Linked DNA regions of Homo sapiens: region 2 is linked to region 1. The links come from fine-mapping of genetic effects on gene expression. A gene starts in region 1. The other region holds a variant in brackets. All regions are shown on one strand. Distances are from middle to middle. Region 1 holds the start of TMEM132E (transmembrane protein 132E). Region 2 overlaps TMEM132E (transmembrane protein 132E).

Evidence for each region. PIP is the estimated chance that this variant, and not a neighbour inherited with it, causes the effect. A credible set is the group of variants that fine-mapping cannot tell apart.
Region 2: its variant is the best candidate, but not a certain one, in a credible set for the expression of TMEM132E in whole blood (TOPMed, PIP 0.56).

Annotation. Positions count from the first base shown.
Region 1 is chr17:34,577,024-34,582,385 of GRCh38, reverse strand. It overlaps TMEM132E (transmembrane protein 132E), which reads right to left and starts at 2,804. Exons shown (of 9, transcript NM_001304438.2): 1 at 1,243-2,804. The coding sequence starts at 1,309. TMEM132E-DT (TMEM132E divergent transcript) reads left to right here and starts at 3,017. Exons shown (of 2, transcript NR_160787.1): 1 at 3,017-3,515; 2 at 4,766-5,362. RefSeq lists enhancers at 2,780-3,315, 3,316-3,852.
Region 2 is chr17:34,632,795-34,638,156 of GRCh38, reverse strand. TMEM132E (transmembrane protein 132E) reads right to left here. Exons shown (of 9, transcript NM_001304438.2): 6 at 5,248-5,362; 7 at 3,070-3,358; 8 at 1,959-2,150; 9 at 1-980. Among named protein-coding and RNA genes, the nearest start is that of TMEM132E, 56 kb to the right of the region's middle. The variant G/T (reference allele first, on the strand shown) is at 2,416.

The sequences.
Region 1 (5,362 bases):
AATGCGCTTTGGTCAGGGTGAAAGAGGCCGCTGGTTAGAGACCTTGGGCACACTCCTGGCGAGCTTGAGCAGGCTCTTAGGGACTGGGCAGATCTGGGCAAGAGCTGAGCCCGGCACACCGAGGGCGCTCCACCAATGCGGAGAGCCCACTGCCCCCTCCATCTAAGCGCCCTCCATTCTGCCTGAGGCTCACCCCTCAGCGTGGAGCATCGAAACACCCCCGCCCCCCAACCCCGCCACGCCTTGCTGGTTAAGAAAATGTATCCCAGGTCGGCTGGTTTCACGTTAGGAGGGAGCAGAGGGCCCCGCTTCTCCACTCTCCTTTCGGAGCTCTCTCCCTCCCACCTCGGTCTGCTCCCCTCGCCTCCTGGAGCGTCTCCAGCTTGCGGAAGGCCCGCTGCAGCCTCCTTCCCTCTGGTCTGATTTCCCATTCTTGGGGGCTGTTCAAAAACCCGCTGCCCCCCACCCGTATGCCCGCTGTCCCACCGCCAAAGCGCGCCAACCTCAATCCCTCCTTCTCCCACCCCCTTTACCGCGGAGCCCGGGGCGAGCCTGGGGAGCAGACGCAACAGATTGCAGAATGCGAGAGCGCGGAGCCCGCTCCCTCCGCGCGCGGCCCGCGGCCCACCGCCCCGGCCTGTGCGGGTGCCCAGACCCCCGCCCTCCGGGCTCGCCTAAGCCGGCCATTTAGATGCAGCTCACAGGACCGCGGGCGTGCGAGCCGCGGCGGCTCCCCGGCCCGGAGTCAGTCCACTTCCCTTCCCGAGGACCGCCGCAGGAAGCGAGGCGACGGGCGGCGCGGCCCCGCACCGGCCTGCGCGCCCGGGGCGAGGAAAGACGCGATCCCGGCGGATCCCAACAGCCCCCAGCCCGGCCGGCTGCAGGGAGAGACGGGGGCGGGGGGCGGCCTGGACGCGATCCGGAGGATCCCTCGGATCCCTCTAGATTTCCGTGGGCGGACACGACCCCAGACCTTCGGGTTCGAACCCTTCTTTATAACCAGGAGAGGACTGGAGCGACACCCTCCCCCCACCCTTTTCTGGCGCCGGGCTCGGTCCCCTCAGCTGAGCTCGCCGGAGGGCTCGGGGGCTGGCGGTAACTCGAGCTGCAGCCAGAGACGCCAAACCCGGAGTGGCGGCTGCGAGTCCAGGGGGTGTGGGTGCTCCTCTCCCCAGTCTTCCCCGTACCCCCTCCAGTGGCGCCTGCCGCATCCTCACCCCCAGTCCGCGCCGCGACACTTACCGTGGGCGAGTAGCGCTGAGAGGCAGAGCAGGGCGGCGCCGCCGCGGCCCGACATCCCCGGGGCCATGGCCGAGGCGGGGGCGGGAGGGGTCCGAGAGAGCAACAGTCGACGACGACTTGGCCCCAGGCTGGGCTTGGTCACATCCAACTCAGGGCTGCCGTGGCGCCCGGCTGTCTCAGATGCAGCTCCGGGACCAGAGAGTGCAATTCGGGGACACTTTGCGGGGAGGGGGCGTCCCAGGCGCTGGCGGCTACACCCTCGGAGCCGGTGGGGGCGCAGCTCCGGGCGGGAGGAGCCTCCACCTCCCCCAGCTGGTGCCCCCTGCAGGATCTGCGAGGCGCGGGGGGAGCTGCACGTGCAGTCCGGAGCCCGGTGGCCGCGGGCGTCCCGGGGGCTACCTAGAGCCCAGTGCTGAATCTCCCGGCCTCACGGCCCAGCTCGAATCCGAACTCACTCGAGGGTGCCGACTTCCAACGCAATCCCCAGTTTCCTCGGTTTCGGTAGTAACCGCACATGGATAGCGCCGCTTTCTTCCTCCAAGCCCCTGCAGCAGCCCAGCATAAAAATCCCAGGTCAGGTGCAAATGAATGCTGTCTTTCTCAAAGAAAGAGAAAATCCAGACAACTTTAATCCATCTGGAGAAGGAAAAGTTTCCGTGCGGTGCTGAAACTGGCGACGCCGGTCGCCACCACCCTAGGCGACGCCCAGACCGGATGCCCGAGGCGGGCGGCCAGATGTTTGTCCCCTCGCAAGGCTCGCTCCTCCGCTCCAGCGCGCTTTCTCCAGTCTGGATCAGGGCCCAGGCTCCACACAGGCCGGCTCAGCGCCTCCTGCCCAGGCAGCCGCTCGGCGGCTGGGGCAAGGGTGGCGCGGCCAGAACGGGCTGCCCCATGTAGATGGGGCTTGGAGAAGCGAGGGAGCGAGAAAGCCGGCTAATGCGCCCTGCCCCGAGCCCTTCCTGCCCAGGACGTCGACTCCAGCTTGATGACCATAAACGCTGTAAGATGCAGAGGGGCTCCTGCAGCTCACGGCAGCTCCGGGCCACCCCGCTAAGGTCTCGCTGTCTCGGCAGAGAGGCGCGCTGCCCCGCCTCGCTCCTCGCCTTCCCTGGGGGAACCTGCACAAACCTTGAACTTTTCTGGGGTTCAGAGTCTCCGACGCCTCCTCCCCGCCGCCCCCACCCTGTCCCCGGACGCCCGTTCGCCCGCTGTCTCGATGCTGCCGGGCATCGGCTCCCGCTCCCTCCGAGTCAGTTTGGGCGAGCGGATCGCCGCGCCAGTCCGGGCTGCGGGCGGTGAGACGCGGGCGCGGCGCCAGGGGCCAGGGCAGCCGGCACCTGCGCAGCTTGCGGCCAGGGAAGCGGCAGCTGGTGCCTACGGGGCCGAGAGGAGAGGAGGTGCTGGCAGGGGAGCCGGCTCCCCATGGACGTGTGTGGGGGAAGAAGAAGAATCGAGGAGCAAAAAGGAAGAGGAGGTGGGGGAAGCCACAGTTGCACGAAGCAGCCGCCGCCGCCGTCGCCGCCTCCTCGGCGCTCGCGCCGGCTGCTCCGCCGTAAATGACTCGAGAGAGACACACACACTCGCGCTCGCCCGCCCTCCTCCTCCGTCCGGGATTCAGCGCCCACCCGGGCAGAAGCGGGCGCCGAGCTTGGCGCGCTCACTCCCACCCCTCCCAGATTCCCCGTGGTCACGTGGCCCCCGAGCGCGCGGCCCACAGCTCGCGCGCCACGGAGACTCCCCGACTCCTAGCTCCCCCTCCTCTGTCCACGTGTCCATTCCGCATTCCTAGCCTGGCGGCGCGCGCGGCTCCTTAATGAGACTCGGGCCAAGGGCCGACCTCGCGATTCCGCTCGCCCCTATTTTATGTTTGATTTTTCCTTCCCAACGCCGGCTAGCGCTGGGACCCGAATGGGGCCGGCCAGCTGCGGCGGGAGGAGCCTCCACCTCCCTCAGCTGCGTTTCTCCAGGGTAGACGCCACCGCAGTCACTGATGTCCCTTTTCAAAGGATGCACGCTCCCCACCGGGCGCCGGAGGTGTTTTGCAGCCGCTCTTCCAGAGGCGCGGGTAGGGGGCACCCTACCCCCACCCCCAGAGTTCGCTGGGCACTGGCTGGGAATCAGCCTCGCTGCTGTGCCCAGCTCCTCTCGGGCCGCGGGGGCTCTGGGGCTCAGCTTCGTGCGGGATGGGTCCGGGGCGCAGCTGTGGGAAACCTATTTATTCTGTTGCTGGGGAAGGAAGACGGAGAAGAGGAGGGGACAGTGCTTTCCTACAGGTTGTTTAGCAAGCCTTTAAAGAGGCATGAGGTGGGGGTGGGGAACTGCCCCTCTTGCATACTCACCCAGGCACCTGCTGACTAGCGGGAGGGGTGGCTGGAGTGATATCTGTTCCCACCATCAGGCCCTTTCCATTAGAGTGCAACCTAGATCAGACCCGGCAAGTCAACCTTCACACCTCATCTGTCAACCAGGCATCGGATCCATGGCAATGATTTTATAGCTTCGTTGGGTATCAACTCCAATCCCCAGAGGGTGAATTTCAATCCTACCCTGCTCTGGAGGGACAGGGTCTTCAATCCCATGGACATATCCCTACTGGGGAGGATATGGATCTTGAGGGTCACCCTTCCATACCTCTGCACTCAACTGGAGTGAGAGTGTGGGGCCAGGTCAGAGCAAAGCCAGCTGGGGCACTCAAACCGTGCCCTCCATCTGCCTGACTCCATGCTAGCCCTCTTGACCCTGAGAGTTTCCTTTCATCTAGGACGGTGACATTTTGTTTTTGGAAAATGTGCTTGCATTTTTCATGGAAGGCTTCCTCCTCCCTGGCTGCTGGCTGTTGCTGCCTCGCTTGGTACTGGGGCCTGTAGAGGGCTGCTCTGGCCCTTCCCCCACCCCTACATCTGTCTGGAGCTGGGGGGAGGTGCAGCCTGAGGAGAGCTGGCCAGCTCTTGGAGGCCCTGGGGATAGAAGGTGCTGGAGTCGTCAAAGAAGATTATTCTCATTAGGCCCCTAATGCCTGATGGCAATTAATGTCACCCAAGGGCTTATTCACCAACCCCCTGAGAAGCAAGCTAGCAATCAGGCTCTGTGTGGGGGAGAAAGGGGGAAAGATCCACCTCCTGAGGCAGAGGAGGGCTTCAGGAAGAGGAGGAAGGAAGCAGGGAGGGCCCTCCATCCCTGCCCAGCACCCCATCAGAAGGGTCATGGAGCCTGAGCATGGCCAGAAGGAAGAGACAAGGTGCTTTTCTGAGCCCAAGACACACCTTACCCTGTGTTGTGGATCAAATTTCCTTTCTCCTCAAATGTTCCCAGTTGACGCTAGGGTCTGAGGGGCAGCAATGTTGCATCTCTCCCAGCCATCTGTGGAAATAGCACAGTGTTCTGGTCAGGGTGGGCAGGGACTCAGACATAGAATTCTTCTCTCTGCAACCCCATCTCACCCCACCCCATAGCTCTTATGTGACCTTCCTTTGTGATTCAGTTTCTCCTCCTCCCTCCCTGTCTCTGTCCCTCCCTTTCACAGTAGTATGGTGCATATCTCCAACATCACAGGCATTGTAGGTACAACAGTGAGCAGGACAAAACCAGCTCTTGTCCTCATGGAACTAACTTTCTAGAGGGGAAGGCAGACACTAAGCTTCTAATTGCTTGCAATTGTGGTGTGATTTGGCATCATGCACTTCGCTCATCTTATGGAGAAGACTGAGGCCTGTGGTTGGAAAGGGCGAGGGAGCAGCCTGCTATCTTTAGAGAACACAGTTTCAGCCTCAAGTTCTTCCTGTACCTCCGATATGGATCTACCCTTCCTGGATTGAAGCCTTGTGCCAAGTCCATGGGCCTGATGATCCTCTGACTCTCCAAATGCCAGATTTTCCTCCTCCTTGCCTCAGGGAAGTGAAGGGCAGCCGATAGCCCACCTGGAGAATAAAATATGACTACAACCTGCAGTGCTCCATGGACCTGTCATTCTCAGCAGTGTAAATCCTACTGCTCAGAGAGAAGGCAGTTGGCACAAGGTAGACAGCCAGTTGTTTCAGCTATTCCAATCCTGCATGTCATTTACCTGGAAAGGGGTTCTATACATTCCCTCTGCCTTTCCTACTACCCCAGCAGACTGCCC
Region 2 (5,362 bases), 56 kb before region 1:
TCCGGGCAGCCCCAACCCAGGTCCTCTTCCTCCTCCTCGTCCTCTTCGCCCGCGGGCACCGAGTCATAGGCCAGCTCCTCTGACGGCAGCGTGGTGAAGGTGGTGAACTTGACCCGCTTGCGCTTGGAGGTGGGCGAGCTGGCGGGGTCCTCGGCTTGGTCTCGGGCTGAGCCGCCCGAGGAGCCGTCGCCCCTGCCGTGCACCTGGCTCTGGACGCTGGTCTGCGAGCTGCCGCTGCTGTGGTGGTCGCCGTGGCAGAAGGCGGGCACGGTTTCCAGCGGGTTGCCTGCTGGCGGCGACAGCTCTCCTTGCACCCGCAGCGGCTGCCCGTTGCCCAGGAACACCCAGTGGTGAGAGTGGTCCATGCTGGTCTGGCCCTCGGGCGGGATGCGCTTGTGCCGGTAGCGCAGCACAAAAACGATGCAGTTGATGAGGAAGACGAGGATGGCGAGGCAGAAGACGCCCAGCAGCGCGTACATGCCGATCTCCAGGTCTGTCAGACCCCGTGGCACCTGCAGGAAGCCGGTGGGCAGCGGCAGGAAGTCTTCTGTGGGTGGCACGACGGGGCTGGCGGTGCCCGGGCCTGGAGCCTCCGGTGCGGGTAGCGCAGAGCCCGGCGGGCCAGCTCCCCGGGCCTCGTCCTCGCCCCCGCCGGGCCCTGGTTGGCTGGGGCCCGGGTAGTCATAAGTGGGGTCCTCCTCGTCCCTCCCAAAGTGCACCCGCAGGCCCACAGGGGTCGTGGCGAGCACACTCTTGCGTTTGGTTTTCTGGCAGCTCTCAGCGATGGTTAGCTCTGCGCGAAGCAGCTCCCCTGACCCCTCGGCCTCAGCCACTACCAGAGGGAAGGCCCGGTCCTGGGTCACAGTGGCCACATGCTCATCCAGGCTGCTCACTAGCAGTCCATAGTCTCGTGGGCTGTAGAGGGAGAGTGGGGCTGTGGTGCCATCACTGTAGGAGAGCCAGAGGCTCAGTAGGGCTTCCTGGAGGAGAAGGAGAAGGAGGGGATAGGAGTCAAAGAGCTGGTTCAGCTGGCTTCCTGCTAGATCCTGGGCTCTGTAGGGGCAGGGACCACGGGTCTCTGGCTCCCTGCTGTATTCTCAGCACTGGAACTGTGCCTGTGACCTGTGGCGGGCATTCAGGAACTACTGTTCAAGTGAGAGTCCTCCTCACAGGGTGTGGGGAGGGTAAATCCCAGACCATGGCATCCAGGCCTCATACTGCTCTGAGGATGCCCTTGTCCACTTCACCCTTCTCCCCTGGATAACCTAAAGGTAAGTTTTGCCTTGGGTCTAATTCAAGTCCCTTCTGCTGCTGGAATAGCTCCATATCTCCATGCCTAACCTTGGGCTTACCCCCATCAGACAACAGGCTGTTGAGAATACACACCCCCTCCCCACTTCTGCCTGTTGGCTAAAACCTTCTGAGGATTGCCCTCCCTCCAGATGAGGAAGCAGGGTTCAGAGAGAAGTGATTGCCTTGGGGTGATGGAGTGAGTTAGGGACAGAGGACCCGTGTCCTAACTCCGGGCTCAGCACTTGATGCTCACCTCCTCACTCCCCAGGACTCTCACCTGTCACCTCCTCACTCCCCAGGACTCTCATCTGTCACCTTTCCACTTTCATCCTGTGGCTATGCCTGTGGTGTATACTTGGGGCTCCAGAGTTGAGTGAGGGTACTTCCTGGGGGTGATGTGGAGGTGACAGCCCTCTGTGAATCCAGGAGGGAGACCCTCAGAGGGAACATCTCAGGTGGCAAGAGCAGCAAGCAAGACCTTGCTCTGACCTCCCATGTAGATGTTGTGGCCATAGGGTGGGCAGTTGTGCAGGGCATGGAGGGCAGAGATCCTCCATTTCCTAAAGCCCTAATATGGGGACTCTTGGTGCTAGGGCAAAGCAGAGCCCCCAAGTTCTCCTTCCATACCACCAACTCCCTGGCTGGTGGGCCAAGGAGCCAGTTACCTGCTTGAGGAAGCTCAAGGTCTGTTGGGCAGCTGTGGTGGCTAGGATGGTGTGGCTGCTCCCAGGGCTGGGCCGCAGGGAGAGGGCCAGGCTGGCCACCACCTGGGCCTGAAGCTGTGTGATGCTGACCTTCTCCTCAGTCACCGTCAGCAGCGTCTCCCCGAGCACAGCCTCCGTCAGCGGAGACACCACCTGAGGCAGAGCGGGACCGGGGTGGGAGAGAACCAGGAAAGCACACCCCCCTGCCCAAGACCCCCAGCTAGGGAGAAATCCCAGCACTGCTGGAAGAGGGGCCTGAAGGGTGAGGCAGGCTGGGAGGCAGGACTTCGCAGCTCTGCCTCAGGTCTGCAACCAGGAACCAGTGTCCAGAGGTCATGAGAGGGTCGGGGGCTCACAGGAGCCAGGCGGGAACACAAATGAGAGAGGTGGGCCAATTCTAAGGAAAACAACAACCCCC[G/T]CATGGTGACTAGTAGCAATTGATGTGCAACCTCAATGTCAGGGAGACAAAAGGGAGTGGCGACAACTTAGAAAATGAGGGAACTCATTCTCGTGTATAGGAGGCACCAATACTGGCTTTAGCTGATTGTTACCAGATTCATTTTTTGTGAAACCAGAAATCTCTATATATTTTTTAAATGAGAAATCTCCCAATTTAAAACACATTGGATCAATTGTTTTACAAAGAAGATATGTCTGCAGGCAGATTCTAGCCCACAGATCACAACAGTTTCTTAGGTAGATGATTTCTATCCAGACACCCAATTGTCAGGGTAGAAACAAGTCAGGAAAGGTCAAAGTTGAGTTCCTAGATCACCAAATGCACCTTCCTGGACTCTAGGCTGGCTGACTCTCACCTGCTCCCCCTCTGCTCTCAGGGAGGGGTCTGCTTGAGTCACCCACACTGAGGATTGATAAAGGTTGATACAACTTGGAGTGAGAACTTTTACCAAGATGAAGCTAAAAGAGCCTGACCTTGGAATTTCAGACAAGGGGCAGGCAGGGAAGAGTGTTCTGGGGGCCAGTTGGGGTTAGGAAAATCTGAGTTCTGCACCCACAGGTAAATAAGGCTCCCGACACTGCCCCTTTGTGCTGGGACAGAGCCCATACCTACCTTAAAGGGGGTGGTGCCTGGCTCCAGTCCTGCCAGCGTGCTGCTGTCCACCATGTGTGCCACTCGGGGATCGCCCACCCGCATGAAGTCACTGACTAGGTCGGTGACCTCCACCAGCCAGTCCGGGCCTAACATGGTGACCACCTGGTCAGTGCCCTCGGATGATGTCGTGTGGAACTGGGTGAAGACCTGCAGGGTGGCATGCTGGTACTGCAGGGTGCAGCCACGGCTTGCACTCTGCCGCCGCTCCTCCTCCTCCTCATCCTCATCCTCGCTTTCCCGGACTGACCTGGGGTGGGGACATGCCATGCTGAAGGCTTCTCACCTGGACTCTGACCTGCACAGTACACACCCCGCACCCTTGCCCTGTTGGGTCCTCCCAGCTTCCCAGAAGCTCTGCAAAAGCAAGCTTCCTCTATGGCTCATGCCTTCCATCTCTAAGTTGGGAACCAGGAGTCCCAGCCTTTTCTCTCCTAGAAAAGTACATTCTTGACCCTACCTCCTGTCCCTCTCTGCCTCTTCTTGGCTTAAGCCAAGCCTAGGAATAGCTGGCGTCAAATCCTAACAGCAACTGCTGCCTCTTCTTCAGTACTAAGTTTGTGCCTGGCACTGTTCTAAGCTCTAACCTGGAGCAAATGTGATCCTTCTTACAGAATGCCAGAAATCTTAGCTGAATTGTGTCCTGCAGTTGTGTGGAAACTAAGCAGGACCTGTAGGTGATGAACTCGGACATTTAACTGAGGAGATTTCCAAGCAAGGTGTGGAAATCGTGGCCTGGTTTCCTCTTGCTGCTTTTAGTCAAATGTGAGAGGAGAGAGACACATAAATAAACTGTTAAGCAAAAGGGAACCTGGACTTGATGATTTGGGAAATTCTCAGCCTGTGCACGTTGCAAAAAATGCTAAAATTGAGAGGTTTACTGCCAGGAAGGTGTGCTTTGGTGAGAAAGCCAAGTGTTTTTCTCTGTAGCTAGTGCTTTGTTAGTGTACTGGAGGATCAAGCAACCAGAATATTCATTCACACAGAGCATTCTTTTACCTGGGTTCATTAATTTATTCCTCACAAAAATCCTATGAGGCAGGTGTTATTGTGCCCATTTTACAGATACGGAGATGGAGGCACAGAGTGGTTATGTAAGTAGCCCAAGTTTACACAGCTAGTAAATAGCAGAGGCAGGACTTAAACCAGGCTGTCTGGCTTCAGAGTCCGCTACATCCTTGCTACTCAAAGCAGTATCGCTATCACCCAGGAGCTGGTGAGAAATGCAGAATCACAGGCTTTACCCCAGACCTGCCCAGTCAGAATCTGCATTTTACTGAGATCCCCAGGTGATTCGTGTACACATTAAAGTTTGAGAGGCACTGGTCTACACACCTTACTCTTCCAAATCTCTCTGAGTTGAACTCAGCCCAATTCTCACTTGGCCACCTGTTTCTCTCACCACCTGCTTCCCTCTCCAGCCCCGCCCACCTCCTGCTCTTAGCTGCCTGTCACTTTCCTCTCTTCTCTTCCCTGCTGTGCTTTTCTCTCCAGCAGCTCTGAGTGGGTGATTGGAATGCGGTGAGTACACATGTATGTGCCCCACGTATGGGCACCCAGGTGCCTGAGCCTACAAGCCCGCAAGGGAGCCTGGGTATGAGTCACAGTGTGTCTGCACTCATGCACTCACTAGTGTGCCCTTGGTGTGCCCAGGCTGGGACACATGTGTACAGGTGTGTCTGCTTCATTTTGTCTGCCTGACTGCAGGCAGTCTCTTAACCTGTCTCCCCAGCCAACTCCTTTCAGTTCATCCTTTAAGACTTAGCTCAAGAGTTGTCTCTTCCAGGAAGCCTGCCTTGACTTCTCCTGGAGGGAGAGGGGGTTCTCTCCTTGTGCCACTTGATTCCCTGCACACGGGGCTTCCCACCCACCACCATGTTCTGTGGCATGCACATGCCTTCCTCCCCTGCTGGACTGAGAGACTGGCAGGGTCAGGCACTGGCCACATTCACCCCATCTCTCAAACACTTGCCAGTGCCTAGCACACAGTAGCTGGTCAATGAAAGCTTGTTGACTGCACAACCAACCTACAGACTATGTATACCAAGGGCCTTATACCCATATGCAGATCAGACTGTGGGCCGAGGCTGTATCCACCCATGAGTTTCCCAAGTATCCGCCATGGGAGAGGGGCTGTACCTCCGGTCGGGGAGGATAGGTACCCTCCAGCCCTTCACTTGGCTGAGGCGGGCATCTGAGAGCTCAATGTGCAAGGGCAGCTTGGGGACCCAGACTGTCATTTCCAGGGGAGCAT